2 separate regions of the Homo sapiens genome follow, and region 1 is linked to region 2. Evidence: fine-mapped expression QTL. A gene starts in region 2. The other region holds a variant in brackets. All regions are shown on one strand. Distances are from middle to middle.

Region 1 (2,909 bases), 51 kb after region 2:
CCTCCTGCAACCCTCCATACCCTGAAGCCACATAGATTATTTTCCATTTTCCTACTGTGACATGTACTTTCATGCAGTGAGTTTTCATATTCTTTTCTGGAGTATTTTTTTTTGCCCTCTTTGCCTTTATACTTCCAGATGCTTCAACATTTAGCCCCAATAACATCCGCTCTGTGAGGTCCTTACTCATCCACTGTGAAGAGGTAGGCTCTCCTTAGTGTCTTACAGCGCCTATACTTAGCACAAACTGTATTTTTTCTTGGAGTTTTAAGGGGCCCAGAAAGTAACATCACTCTTCCTTGCTTAGTTCAAAGAGAGACACATTATTGAATTCCTGTACCTCCAGAGATTCAGTGAGCCTGAGGTGAAGACCACTATTTGTTAGTTTTAAAGATAATTCCAGATAACTTGAATGTACATTCAGTGACATCAGATGGAAATGAAAATATCAGCTTCATTACTGACAGACTGCACTCTGGAAGGTCAGATTTGTGTGTGGGCATGGGGGCTTAGTACCACACTTTTCTGTCTGAATTACACTCCCTTTAGATGGGCAGAACCTGCCTTGCTATGCTGTTTACCTGGAAGTAGAGTAGCAGAGAGCTTAACAGTAGGAATGGAGTGAGGGGAGAGAAAGAGAGGCAAAGAAGCAAGTCCATTTTTCTCTTCCAAACTCTTCATCAGATAATCCACTGTGACTGACCCCCAGTGAAGGGCTGAGGAGAGGAGAGAGGTGGAGAAAAGCCTAGCGTGGTCTGGTGGAAGTCCCTCATGGAAACATAAGAATTTTAGAATAAATGCCCCCTAAGAGTACTGTAATTATTTTTATATGATCATCTTACTCTATTTCCTAGACTTCTAGAATCCCAAAGATGGGATTTTTTCATTTCTTCTGCCTGGTACTAAATTCAATACATGTTTGTTAAATGAATGCTTAATCCTGAAGTGTTATTTAACACATTAGATTTTAAAGACAGTGATACCTCAAATTTTAAAATCAAACAGCTTCTAGTCATTTCAAATTCCCAGCAGTCTCTCTAATGTAATTACATGGTTTATTGGTTACGTTTGGACATTGTCTACAAGTGTTATTTGTGGTAGACTTTATCCCCCAGATAGCTGTGTCTTCCATCTATTTTTAGTTGCTTTCTTAATTTAAATTCAAATAGGACAAAAGCCAGGACCTGATGTCCTGCTGCTGTGTACATAGCTTAAGAATGATTTCTAAATATTTGCTACCTTTTGTAAGAGAAACAGACCTTGTGAGGCATCACATATCTAGATGGATTGGA[G/A]CCAGATGAGAAGCATATGGTCCTTATTTCCAAAATCCTTGTTTGCATTGGAGAGGGGTTGGCAGTTGAAAGCTGAAACCTCTCCTTCTGAATAACCAGATAAAGGGAAAGTGTCTGCCTACTCAAGTTGTGGAATAGCTTGGAAATCAGTAATGAAGAGAGGCCAAAACAGACCTCGGCTATTGGAGAGTAAAGTGGACAGAAAAAAGGCATTGAAACCAGAGACCTTTGGCTTGGAATGTCAGCAGGTCACTTACATCTCAGTACCAGTTTCTTCATCTTGAAGGGGAGTTAATATCACTTTTGCAAAGTTGGCTGTGATAACTGAGTGAGGCCAGGTGTGGTACCTGGCCTAGCAGACACCAGTCTCTGTCACTTATCCATTGGACTAATAGCACACCAGCATCATGGACTAGCAACTCTGCTTCTCTGTCAATGTTTGTGGAGACAGGGGTGGAGATGTTTTCTGAGCAAATTTATTTTTCAAGAACTCCTTCAGAGGCATTGCCCATATGTCCTATGGTTGATATTTTTTCATTTGTGAAAATGTAAACACACGCTTGGGCACTTTCACCATGTTACCATTGCTATACTGTTTACCTTTTTTACTTGAATGCAAGCTGTGAGTTTCAATGCTCATCTGGTCTACTTGGCTAGGATGACATTTATGCTACTTAGGAATGGTTGACATTTAGATCTTAGCAGTAACTGTTGGAACACTTCCAGGTTAATCTTGGATAATTGGTTTAAATCCAATTCTTTTTGTTTTTCCCTGAGAGGAATGATAAGAAACTATTAACAGTGATTCCTTTTGGGTGAAAGACACATGGCGGGAGAGGAGGCAGCCTCTAAGATGGCCCCCAAAGACCCCCACCTCCTAGTGTTCACCTCATTGTGCAATCCCCTCGTATCCAGTGTAGACTGGACTTACTAACTTGCCTCTAATGAACAGAATTCAGCAGAAGCAATGGATGTCACTTCCAAGATGAGGTTTTAGAAAGACTGTGACTTCCAACTTGGGTGTTTTTTTTCTTGCCTTTTCTCTCCTCTGCTCACTCAGAGGGCCTCTGATTCCCGTATTGTGAGCTGCCCTGTGCAAGACTCCTGTGGCAAGGAACCGGGGGAGGCCTGCAGGAAACCGTCTATGAGCAACCCAGGCCCTTAATCCATTGCCTGTGATGGACTAAATTCTGCCAAAAACCAAATGAGTGAGCTTGAAAGAAGACCTTCCCTTAGTCAAGCGTTTAGGTGAGACTGAAGCTCCAGTCAACAGCTTGACTGAAACCTCTGAGAGACCTCGTGCCAGAGACAACCAACTAAGCAGCAGCTAGACTTCTGACCCCGAGAACTGTGACACAATGGTGCTTTGTTATATTAAGCTGCTAAATTTGGGGGTAATTTATTGCACAGCAATAGATAACTAATAAAGGAAGAGATGATGAAAAGGGTAATAAAAAGCAGCTTTTACCTTTTATTTTATGCCTGTTTTACTGTATAAATTTTCTCATTTTATATATGTACAATATTTACTTTTTAAAATATTGTCAACAGGTGTTATTTAGGCCAGTGGATTATGGAAAATCCTGCAAATTGGCTCACTCAGTGCAAACTCCAACA
Region 2 (2,899 bases):
AGCCTTGCTAATTCAGCTGCGGAGGGAGAGGCAGGAGGAGGATCACTTTAGTTCAGGATGAGCTTGGGTAGATATTAAAAGAAATACAATCCTCTTACTGCATGGAGAGTGTGCATGTGTGGAGGGAGGGACTAGAGGCAGCCACCAAGCCTCTGGGCCTGGGGACAAAAGGGATCAGTGCCCCCTCTGCTCAGCAACTCATGGTCAGCCGGAACTGGGAGGCAGCCTGAGATTGAGATTGGGTCTGAAGAGGGAAATTCATTGCCATCCTGAGCAACATGGCAAATCTGACTTCCAGTAAAACAGGAAAACGCTAAACACCCCATATCCTAGGGACGGAAAATACTGCCACGTGAAAGAGAACACAGTTCAAGTGATACCAATCATGGGGCTCATTAGCCGGTGTTGATTTTCAAGTACAATGCTCAAGCTACAATATAAAGGAAATGTCCTTTGCTCAGGACACAAATGAAGACCTCAGGGCCGTCATATACAGCAGTCACCAGGGAAGCCAGGCAAGCCTGGTGCCTGGTACAACTCCCCTCCACCTGCTTTGGGCTGTGCTTGCTACGGACCTGGGTTTCATTCATGCACGTCTCTGGGGAAAAAAAATAAATTACTGTGCGCAATTTACTGAGGGACTTGCAAAACAACAGAGAACCCAATTTGTGCAATCTGGATTTTTTAAAATGCAATAAAAGGTCCTTCTTTGTGCAGAAATATGCAGAAAGGAACTATTAGGTTCAGGTCATATTTATTTTTGACCTTCTAAAGAAGGACACTGGAGTCAAAAGGGACACAAACATATAGACCAAAATTAAAAGTGTGTATATCTAGATCTCTGTTTTGAACTCCAGAACTCACCAGACAGCACTGTGTGATCACGATCCTACCCTATTGGTCCTGGGAGATTTTTGGTGGCTTCTCTGTTAAATCGTTCGTGTCTGCTGCACTTAAGTAGCCACAAAATCCCCCGCAAGAAGGAAGGCTGCTGCAATCTCCCGCCCCGATCTGCGGGCCGCGTCCCCGCGAGCTGCCTGCGGGCGCGCTGGGAGCCGGCCCGGGGAGATGCGAGCGCAGGGAGATGCGCTCTGCTCCGGGCGCAGCGGGCAAGCTGCCGCACCTCCTACTTCTGTTGCCTGGCTTGGGGCCAGGAGAGCGGCAACCCGGGGCCGGCTCCGGAGCTGGACATATCCGGCGTCTCCGGGGCCAGGGTCTGCGGGTCCCCGGCGCTGCGTCCTCCCGACCCGCTCCCCGCGGCGCCCGGGTCGCGCCTTGCGGCAGTCACCGAGCTGAGGGCAGGGCGTCCCAGCGTCCCTGGCCCCGGCCCCGCTCCGCAGCGCGCCGCACCCCGAGGCTCGGGCCCCGCACAGCTGCAGCCGGTGCCCTCCGGCCAAGCCCCCGCCTGGCGTCCCCGGCCCCAGCCCCGGCCGCCCGCCGCTGACCTTTTCCTGCGCGCGGTTGAGTCGCTTCTGGACGTTCTTGGCGAAGATGCCCGTCTTGATGTCGGCCATGGCTGCGGGTCCGGGGAGCTGCGAAGAGCAGAGCGCGCAGCGGGGCTGGCGGCGGCGCGGAGGAGCGGGAGGAGGAGCGGGAGGAGGAGGAGAGGGCCGAGCAAGGGAGGAGCGGGAGAAGCGGCGGGGAGCCGCGGAGCGCGGAGGGGTGAGGGCGGGGCGCGGCGGCGGGACCAGCTTAAAGCGACAGAGCGGGGGCGGGATGCGTCGGGACTGGCTGTGACATGGGGAGAAGGGGCGGGGGAAGAAAGAGAAAGAGGCCAAGAAAAAGAGAGGGAAAAGCCAGAAGCCAGATTGTCTCCTCGATGATAGAAGAGTTTCGAGAGGAGAAAGGGAACCAAGCCTAGCAGAAGTCCCTGGGCCCAGGGGCAGCTCGGGGGTTCTTTTAATGCAGTTTGTATTTGGGGAGAGTGAGGGGACCTGATTCTTTCCAGCAAAAAAAGAAATAGGGGAGACAAAAAAGGGAAGAACCCTAGGGATGTGGAAGCCAGCTGGATTGGAACTGCTCTGAAGTGGAGCTGATGGGGCTGGTCCCTTGCTGCTCCCAAAAGTTTCCAGCTAACAGAGGCCCCTCCATACACCCTGGGTGTTGCAGAAGAAGGTATGGAGGTCGCCCTACCCTCAGGAGGCTCACAGCCCAGTGAGGGGCCCTGGCTGGGAAACCAACGAAGTCAGAGCTGCAGGAGAGAGGCGTGTGGAGAGCAAAGCGGGGAGAGACCATCGCTGACACTTGTTTAAACTTTAAAACAAGAGTTAGCAGGGCGGGGAGGTCCGCGTTGAGAAAGGTCAGCTTCCGGAAGACAGGCGATGTGTTTTGGTCATCTCCAAAATTCCTGTGCTGGGCAGAAACCTTAGAATAGACTACTCTTCAAGAAATGGTGCATGGAACAGTCAAGTCCCTTATAGCTTCGCATCAACCATGGAAGACCCAGTCCCCCCTAACTTGTTGCTTCCTTGGAAACCTTTTGGCAACCTTAACAGGGACTCACCATCCCTATTATTCTTATTAATGCTTGGGAGAAGTACGAATAATAGGGATAAACCTGCCCTACACCTAGAGCTCTTGTTGGCTCTGACCAGTGGTCAAACTATTCATATTCCATTCTCACTGAGAGTGTGAGGAGAAGAAGTCAGGTGGTGCCCTGCAAACAGAGGTCAGAAGTGGTCACTCACAGTGAATCCTATGAGTCCAGGTGAGCATCCTACTGTACCTCTGGGGGAAACTGTTACATTGGTAGACCTCAGCGAGCTGCCACCTGGTGTTCACTCTTGTGTCACCCTGTAGTCCCCTCACCTTGATTCTAGAATGATGCTATGGCCAGCTTTAATCAATAAGATGTGGTGAAAGTGACGCCATGGTAATTCCAGTCCCCCCCCCACCCACC

Direction of the effects. Positions count from the first base shown, and alleles are read on the strand shown. Sizes are in standard deviations (SD) of each study's normalised expression.
With allele G in place of A in region 1, the expression in ovary of the gene that starts at base 1,536 in region 2 is higher (moderate effect, 0.46 SD a copy in GTEx).

What was found.
Region 1: its variant is fine-mapped to the expression of AMPH in ovary (GTEx, PIP 0.99).

The regions. Positions count from the first base shown.
Region 1 is chr7:38,680,798-38,683,706 of GRCh38, forward strand. No RefSeq gene overlaps it. Among named protein-coding and RNA genes, the nearest start is that of AMPH, 51 kb to the left of the region's middle. The variant G/A (reference allele first, on the strand shown) is at 1,293.
Region 2 is chr7:38,629,838-38,632,736 of GRCh38, forward strand. It overlaps AMPH (amphiphysin), which reads right to left and starts at 1,536. Exons shown (of 21, transcript NM_001635.4): 1 at 1,446-1,536. The coding sequence starts at 1,514.